2 linked regions of the Homo sapiens genome follow. The protein of the gene in region 1 interacts with the protein of each later gene in a pairwise test. Each region holds a gene or a part of one and is shown on either strand. Other genes may lie near its edges.

The links. The genes of interacting proteins can lie anywhere in the genome.
Region 2: the proteins of TRIM23 (region 1) and MORN4 interact in binary tests that used the Homo sapiens proteins (3 or more experiments, as listed by UniProt).

What each region holds. Positions count from the first base shown.
Region 1 is NC_000005.10:65,613,446-65,618,877, forward strand, and holds part of TRIM23 (E3 ubiquitin-protein ligase TRIM23), read right to left. Parts: intron 4,811-5,432; coding exon 4,648-4,810; intron 775-4,647; coding exon 653-774; intron 411-652; exon of another isoform or gene 282-410; intron 1-281.
Region 2 is NC_000010.11:97,622,535-97,627,000, reverse strand, and holds part of MORN4 (MORN repeat-containing protein 4), read left to right. Parts: intron 1-4,466. UniProt on the Homo sapiens protein: Plays a role in promoting axonal degeneration following neuronal injury by toxic insult or trauma.

The DNA of each region.
Region 1 (5,432 bases):
TTTACTCCAAATATATTTTTACCCATAACAGCCTACGAAAGCCATGTCCTATAGTACATATGTGCAGCTATGCAAACACATAAGTGCTAAAAATATACTTTTACATTATTAAAATCCAGTGTTCATGGATTCTGATATTTACTAGACATCTACCTGTATGGATAAAGACAGTACATCTATACAAAGTTTAACCTTTTCTTGAAGCTATAACAGTAACAATTCCCTCAGAAGTTACTGCTATCTTTAAGGCATTTTCCCCTCTGTATTAAATGGCCTCTTACATCGAGTTTTTCTTTCTCTCATTGAGTTTTACTGTTGACTACTTTTGCATCCTCTTCTCTACTGTTGCTTACATATCTTTCTTACTATTCCATAATCTTCTTCCTCTTTTCACTTTATTCTTGGTAGAACTGAATTATGATAAGGAAAAAAAAGTTCACACATAAAGCATAGTTTAGGCATAGGATTTTCAAATAATTCTAGTTTTTTCTCTTGGGAATAGTGTTGGCCTTCAGAACTGTAATGTAATGAAAAGTTGTGTTTCTAGAAATTTACCTGCTGAAATAAATGAAGTAATATTGTGCTAATAATGGCATCTATTAAAAGAAAAATTCATGCTCGTAACAAATATTTCACCAAGTATGATCAATACCTCTCCAGATATCCCAATGGATTCTTCTGCAGCTCCATACTGACCAATAGGCCCATTCTGCAGTCGTTCCAAAAGCTCCAATAAAGCAAAATTTTTTTTCAATCCCCAGACACCTGAATCACCTAGAATAAATATAAAAACAAAAACTAAATCTAACAAAATGGACTATTAATCATTTTACCCATACCTCAAAAGTAATTTCTAATATAGTTCAGTAGTTAATGTCTAAATTTTTAAAATTCAAATTTTCCCCATTTTTAATACCAAAATAATTGCTTTGTTAATGCTCTCTTAAAAAACAGAAGAATCCTTCAGCCTTCCAAGTAGAAACACACTTTAAAATTTATTATTTTTTGGCCAGGTGCTTTGGCCCACGCCTGTAATCCCAGCAGTTTGGGAGGCTGAGGCGGACAGATCACTTAAGGCCAGGAGTTCAAGACCAGCCCAGTCAACATGGTGAAATCCCGTCTCTACTAAAAATACAAAAATTAGCCAGGTGTGGCGTCAGGCGCCCATAATCCCAGCCACTCAGGAGGCTGAGGGACGAGAATTGCTTGAACCCGGGAGGTGGAGGTTGCAGTGAGCCAAGATCACACCACTGCACTCCAATCTGGATGACAGAGCAAGACTCTATCTCAAAAAAAAAAAAAAAAAATCTAAATACACATAAAAAAAATTATGGTGGTAAAGGCTGCACAACAATATGAATGTACTTAATGTCCCTAAACTTAGAAATGGTTAAAACGGCAAATTTTATGTTATACATATATTTTGCCACAGTTTAAAAAAATTATTTAAATCTCTTTTACTTTTTTTTTGAGACAGAGTCTTGCTATGTTGCCCAGGCTGGTGTGCAGTAGCGTGATCTCTGCTCATTGCAATCTCCACCTTCCGGGTTCAAGTGATCCTCGTGCCCCAGCCTCCCAAGTGGCTGGGACTACAGGTGTGTGCCACTATGCCCAGCTGATTTTTTTGTATATTTTGGTAGAGATGGGGTTTCGCCATGCTGGTCAGGCCGGTCTCAAAACTCCTGGCCTAAAGTGATCTGACTGCCTCAGCCTCCCAAAGTGCTGGGATTACAGGTGTGAGCCACCGTGCCCAGCCTATTTCTCTATCATTTAATTTTACAAGTCCTATTTTGTCATTGACTTTTACTATACATGCTAAAACAAGCATTTTCAAATACTTTTTGCAGCAACCTACCTTAAGAAATACATATAACATTGTAACCCAGGACAACATACACACTCTTCCTGAACCTATGAATAAAAGTCAGATCCTTTAGCAGAAGGAATATTTGTTATGGTAAACTCCTATGCAACAAATAACATCTGATATAGCTGCCACCTAATACATATTCATTAAATGAATAAATATATAAAAGGTTGATGGAGTCATTGCCTGCAGGGCCCCCCTTCCTCCTGGCTCTTAAAAAAAAAAAAGCCATTCTGTGTTGTGGTTCTCCCAAAAAAACTGGACTGAACATATCTATCCTCAGCCTTGCCCCTAGAAGGCTTTCTCCTTAATTTTTAACACATATTCTACAACAAGCTGAGTTCTATCTATTTACATAAAGGTTAAGAAGTACACTAAGTGATCATTTAAAAATATAGTCTTGACAATTTTCTAAATATCCAGTCACTATATAATGAATATATACAAATAAACCTCTAGCATTATTACTAGGTAGTGCCTAATATTTATATCACTTAATTCTGTGTCAAAACAACTCTATAATCTCAATGGCTTAACACAACAAAGATTTATTTTTTGCATCATGCAACATCTCAGGGATTAGGGAAGACAAGAGAGACTCTGTTCCCCACTGACCACAAACAGGGACACAGCCTACCGAGCCTCCAACCATCTGGACCACCTCACTGCAGCAAGGAGAAGAATTTACTTTGAAAATCATAAACCTTCTCTTATTAACTTCTACCTGGATGCTAACACTTCACTTCTGCTTACATTTCACTGATCAATGAACATCACACAGTGATGCGTAAGAGGGCAAGGAAGTGTAATTTCACCATATGAGCAGAAGAAAATCAGGAATATTGCTGAATGGTATTAATAACTACTCATATTCTTCTTGGACTAGAGAGAAATTCTGATTCAGGATTCAGAGAAGTCAGAGAGGAGGATGGATGTATTCAGTCTAGTTCCCTGTCATAAATTTCTAGTTTTGTTAAACATTGAGGATAGTAACTCTTCACATTGTGGTATTAATGTAGAGAAGGTAAAGTGCTCTTCAAAAAGGTAGAAGAGCCAGGTGTGGTGGCTCATGCCTGTAATCCCAGCACTTTGGGAGGCTGAGGTGGATCACTTGAGGTCAGGAGTTCGAGACCAGCCAGGCCAACATGGTGAAACCCCATCTCTACTAAAAATACACAAATTAGTCAGGCGTGGTGGCAGGTGCCTGTAATCCCAGCTACTCAGGAGGCTGAGGCAGGAGAATCGCTTGAACCCCAGAGGTGAAGGCTGCAGTGAGCTGAGATCGCGCCACAGCACTCCAGCCTGGGTGACGGAGTAACACTCTGCTTTAAAAAAAAAAAAAAAAAAAAAAGTAGAAGAAAGGTTCTATTCTCTATTTGAAAAACATTACTATTTCTTTAAGCATAGTTTTTTTGTTTGTTTGTCTGAGACCAAGTTTTGCTCTTGTTGCCCAGGCTGGAGGGCAATGGCGTGATCTAGGCTCACTGCAACCTCCATCTCCCAGGCTCAAGCGATTCTCCTGCCTCAGCCTCCCAAGTAGCTGGGATTACAGGCATCCACCACCATGCCTAGCTAATTTTTACATTTTTAGAAGAAAAGGGGTCTCACCATTTTGGCCAGGCTGGCCTTGAACTCCTGACTTCAGGTGATCCACCCATCTTAGCCTTGCAAAGTTCTGGATTACAGGTATGAGCCACCTCACCTGGCCTAAGTATAGTTTTATATAAAGAAATAGTATGATATATGCATATTTCACATAATAAAAGACCAAATAAAAGTACAGAGACTTTCCCAATCCCTATTATTTCTTGGCTACTGGTAAGTTAATGCTATCTATAATGTTATTACTGTCTATTAGTTGTCAGGCAAATAGACTATTTATATACATCAAAGATCACCAAAACCTTAAAAATCCTTTTCTTTCTCCAGAAAATATTTTAAAACCATGTTTCTTAGCATTTCAAAGTCTTCCAGCCTAAAATTATAGGTACTCTTGCTTCCTTTTTTGGTGGATAAATTATTTTGAATGTGTTCCACTTGAAAAATAGTATGAATATATTAAAACTGTCTTAGATAGTGCAACTGACCTGGAAAAAAAATGGCAACCTTAAACTCTTTTGGAGAAAACTCCCTTATCAAAAAGAGTAAACTTACAGAACTTACGTTTGTAAAATAACTGTTCAAATGTTAGTAAATGCTATTATTTCCAAATCTGGTATCTGAAAATAACTTAGTTTGAAATACGTAAAGAAAAGTTTTAAAAGTATACAGAAAACTGCAAAAAAAAGCCACAAACCCTTCAAACTCATTTTAACAGAAAATAAAGAGTAATTATCACAAGCTACAAACACTTCTGTCCTTGATATTAGTAAATAAAAACATGGTGAGACTCAAATGACTTATCTGTATTTTCATTATTGGCTTATTTATTTGTAAAGAAAACATTGTTCTATTGGGTTTATGGCTTCAGGCAAATGATTCACTCTGTGATACACATTCTTATTTATTTGAATCAGGGTAGCACGTTTTTCTCAGGTGTCTTAAAGCTCTTTACAGATAAGTATTGAATATAAACATCTCAGAAGATAAAATAAAATTAGTAACTAAGAGTGAGATAGTTTATAGCTTGAAGATTATTGACCTTAATAGAAACTTAGGCTTTCTGAAACTTTCTGGGAATTTTATCATTCTAAAAATCAAGTGGAAGGACATTGTTTCCTATGACATTTGCATTACATGAACAATTTTCAATCTTAAATCCATACAAATACTTTTCCTACCTAGGTCTGTTACTTGTCGATCAAATGGGCAACGGATTGCTCTTCCATGAAGAGGTAGGCGAGTGAGACAGTCATGACAGACGGTATGGCCACAAAGCAAAAGACGGGGAACTTTGTCTCCTTGCAAAGAAAAGACATCTTCACAAACTCCACACTCTAGCACCTAATATTTGAAAAGGAAGGATGTGCTCTTTAAACAATTTTAAAAGCATACATATTTTAGGTATATAAGAAAATTCACCTAATATATTGAATCAACATTGTTACTTTATTCCTCTATGAAAAAAAAACTATGTAGGTTGTAAAATCTTGAATCACTTTTAAGTCATTCCATTTGACCGACCCTGTCAAAATTATATCATAATGAAATATCTTTGAAATACTAAGTGTTGGGGCAAAGATGCTGTAAATTAACATCTTTGTTATCTTTTGAAAATTATGATTTCAGTCATTACATCTGAATCTGTACAAACAATATGTAATTCTACTGAAGGTGGGTTCTTAAGCAATTTCTCTGCAACTACCTAACCCATCATTAATTTCAACACAAATAAACTATCATTAATTTCAACAAAAATAATCTAAAATATGTACTGAGATAACAATTACCCCTGCAAATGATAAAGAACTTGTTAAGAAAAGACTGCAAGTAACTTTCAAGTATCTTCTACTATCTAATGTACATTAAATAATACAAAGGCAAAAAAAGCAATCATCTTAAATTTCAATTCCTGTTCTCTATCAATAAATATAGCTCTGAATTAGAAACTAGTTTGTCTTTCTAG
Region 2 (4,466 bases), on another chromosome or scaffold:
AGGATCACCTGAGGTCAGGAGTTCAAGACCAGCCTGGCCAACATGGTAAAACCCTGTCTCTACTGAAAATACAAAATTAGCTGGGCGTGGTGGCAGGGGCCTGTAATCCCAGCTACTTGGGAGGCTGGGGCAAGAGAATCGCTTGAACCTGGGAGGCAGAGGTTACAGTGAGCTGAGACTGCACCATTGCACTCCAGCCTGGGCCACAGGAATGAAACTCTGTCTAAAAAAAAAAAAAAAAAAAAATCTGGGCACAGTGGCTCATGCCTGTAATCCCAGCACTTTGGAAGGCTGAGATGGGTGGCTCACCTGAGGTCAGGAGTTCGAGACCAGCCTGACCAACATGGTGAAGCCCTGTCTCTACTAAAAATACAAAAATTAGCCAGCCATGGTGACGGTCACCTGAAATCCCAGCTATTCGAGAGGCTGAGGCAGGAGAATTACTTGAACTCGGGAGGTGGAGGTTGCAGTGAGCCGACATTGCACCACTGCACTCCAGTCTGGGCCACAGAGCAAGACTCCGTTTCAAGAAAAAAAAAAAAAGAGAGAGAACAAGCATCAGAACATATTATGATTATGATTATGATTATGATTATGATTATGATTATTATTATTATTATTTTTGAGTCAGAGTCTCGCTCTGTCACCCAGGCTGGAGACCAGTGGCATGATCTTGGCTCACTGCAACCTCCACCTCCCAGATTCAAGTGATTCTCCTGTCTCAGCCTCTCAAGTAGCTGGGACTACAGGCATGTGCCACCACGCCTGGCTAATTTTTGTGTTTTTAGTAAAGACAGGGCTTCACCATGTTGGCCAGGCTGGTCTCGAACTCCTGACCTCAGGTGATCCATCTTAGCCTCCCAAAGTGCTGGGATTACAGGCGTGAGCCACTGTGCCCAGCCCGCTTGTTCTCTTTAAAAAAAAAAAAAAAAAAGGCATGAGGCTGGGTGTGGTGGCTCATGCTTATAATCCTAGCACTTTCGGAGGCCAAGGCCAGAGATTGCTTGAGGCTAGGAGTTTGAGATTAGCCTGGGCAACATAGTGGGACACGGTCTCTACAAAAAAGTTAGTTGGGCATGGTGGTGTGTGCCTATAGTCCTAGCTACTTGGGAGGCTGGGGCAGAAGGGTTGCTTGAGCCCACAAGTTCAGGGTTGCAGTGAGTTATGATCAAGCGATTGCACACCAGCATGGGCAACAGAGCGACACACTGTCTCCTTAAAAAACAAAAAATCGTTATGACATGAGGCCAAAATAAAAATATCCTGTAGGATGTTGATAAAGAGTGGATGGGTGGCAACTATAGTTTGTTTTTCCTCTACTTAGTATTCAGCTCTTTAGTCAAAATTGCTGAGATTTTCTTTTTCAAAGTGTTGTTTGAATTACATTGGTAGCAGTTTTTACTGAGGAAAGACCTAGAGAAGTTTTCATTACAGTAAGTATATGTGTGAGTTTAAGTGTAAAACTTTGAAAGAGGAAAGAAACTAACATTTAGTGGACAGGCCCTAGCAGTGTTCTAGGTACTTACGTGTGTGTCATTTTCTTTCTTTTATTTTTCTTTTCTGTCACCCACTGACTCTCAGATATTTAATTTAATCCACCTGCCAACTATGTGAAATACATATCTTATCTCCACTTTACAGATGAGGAGACTGAGATTTAGAGATACTTAAATACCTTGCCCATAATTATACAGTGAACTCATATTTGAACTCAAGTCCTCCTGTGCTCAGAGTCTACAACACCACCATATTATCCTGGGAGGCCAGATAGGATAGTATGGTATAAGTTAGCAAGTTACTGTAAGAACTTGTGCCAGCAAGGCCAGCTGTCAGAGCTCTGATTCTAACTTTCACGTGTTAGTTTCCACATGTATGACCTTAGTTAATTTACTTATCCTCTCTGCACCTTAGTTTCCTCATCCCTAAAGTGGAAATAATAATAATACCCACCCCAAAAAGTTGTTGTGAGATGAAATTAGATAATATATTTTAAAAACACTGATGCTCATGCCGTGTGCGGTGACTCACGCCTGTATTCTTAGCACTTTGGGAGGCCGCGGCAGGTGGATCACCTGAGGTCAGGATCACCTGAGGTCACCTGACCAACATGGTGAAACCCCATCTCTACTGAAAATACAAAATTAGCCAGGCGTGGTGGCGCATGCCTGTAATCCCAGCTACTTGGGAGGCTGAGGCGGAGGTTGGAGTGAGCAAAGATCGCGCCATTGCACTCCAGCCTGGGGAAGAATAACAGTGAAACTCCGTCTCAAAAACAAAACAAAACAAAAAACACTGATGCTCACACCAGTAATCCCAGCTACTTGGGAAGCTGATGAGGAAGAATCACTTGAGGCCAGGAGTTCGGGACCAGTCTAGGCACCATAGCGATACCCATCTCAACAAAAAATTTGAAAAGTAGCTGGGTGTGTTGGCACACACCTCTAGTCCCAGCTACTGGAGAGGATGAAGCGGGAGGATCACTTTAGCCCAGAAGTTTGAGACTGCAGTGAGCTCTAATCACAATCACACTACTGCATTCCAGGCTGGGTAACTGAGTGAGACCCCATCTCTTAAAACAAAACAAATAAACAACACTGATGGAACACAGTAAGAGGTCAGTAAATGTTAGCTTCTGTTATAAAGGTATTTCAGACAGCTTCTCTGGGGTTAGTGCAATTGATTATTAGAGAGGGTTGTGCCACCTGAATTGAAATATAAATAATCTAGCACTGTCCACCATGACAATGTGGAGAAAGCAAATTTAACATATGGGTTGTTTTAGTTGAACATTTAAAGCATCACTTTTGCATAAAATATACCAGACCCCTTTTGTGCTATGAAACTATGGAACCCACTCTTTGGAACTCCATCTTGACTGGATGAGGTTTTGGCTTCCCTGGGACTTGAAGGAAAAGGAAGCTAGCTGTTGGCGCCAGGCCCCCGAGATTTAAGAATCCCATCTTGCGGCCAGGCACGGTGGCTCATGCCTGTAATCCCAGCACTTTGGGAGGCCAAGGCGGGCGGATCACGAGGTCAGGAGATTGAGACCATCCTGGCTAACACGGTGAAACTCCATCTCTACTAAAAAATACAAAAAGTTAGTGGGGCGTCGTGGTGGGCACCTGTAGTCCCAGCTACTCGGGAGGCTGAGGCAGGAGAATGGCATGAACCCGGGAGGCAGAGCTTGCAGTCAGCCGAGATCATGCCACTGCACTCCAGCCTGGGCAACAGAGTGAGACTCTGTCTCAAAAAAAGAAAAAAAAAAAAAAAGAATCCCGTCTTGTTTTGAGCTGGGAGCAGTGGCATGCACCTGTAGTTCCAGCTACTCAGAAGTCTAAGAGGGGATTGGAGGATCTCTTGAACCTAGGAGTTCAAGTCCAGCCTGGGTAACATAATGAGACCCTGTCTCTAAAAGAAAAAAGAATTCTTTCCTGTTTCTCCACCAGGTCTGGCCCCAGTACTCTGAGGAGAATGTGTCCTTGTCCTGTTGGAACTCAGTCAGATGCCTGAGGGTCAGACTCTAGGTTACTTATTAATCAGAGGGGACTTTTTTTTTGGAGGGGGACAGGGTCTCGCTCTGTCACCCAGGCTGTAGTGGCACTGTCATGACTTACTGCAGCCTCAGACTCCTGGGCTCAAGCAATTGTCCCTGCTCAGCCTCCCAAAGTGCTGGAATTACAGGCATGAGCCACCATGCTTGGTTGATAGAGGACTTTTCAATAGTGATTTATAGTTCAGAGAACTTTTCACACACAGTATTTCCATTTATTGTAGCAGTAGGCCACAAGCTTTGAAGTAAGGATCTAATGATGTGCTTATTAAAACTGCAGGTTCCCAGGCTCTGACTACAGAATCTGATTCAGTAAGTCTGAGTTTGGGCCTAGGAATCTGCATTGTCAAAATTACTGGAGAAAACATTGTATTGCTTAGATCTGGAAAAGATGAGGAGGTAGCTAGATGTGGTAGTGTGCGCCTGTAGTCCCAGCTACTCAGGAGACTGAGGTGACGGGATGCCTTGAATCCAGGAGTTTGAGGTTACAGTGAGCTATGATCGTGCCACCGTGCTCTAGCCTGGGTGACAGAGCAAGACCCTGTCTCTAAAAAATAAATAAATAAATAAATAAATAAATAAATAAATAAATGAAAGATGAAGGGATGAATGAAGAGACCTAGGGAATTAAAAAAGAAATAGGGCTTGTATTTTTTAGTCTATCAAATGACGTACTATTTGCCTCTGTTTATATTTAATGATTTTGGGGGGTATCTTAATTCCCTCTTCTTCTTCTTCCGTTTTTTTTTTTTTTTTTGAGACAGGGTCTCCCTCTGTCGCCCAGGCTGGAGTGTCGTGGCGTGATCTTGGCTCACTGCACTTCTGCCTCCTGGGTTCAAGCGATCCTTCCACCTCAGCCTCCCAAGTAGCTGGGACTACAGGAACGCACCACCACACCCGGCTAATTTTTGGATTT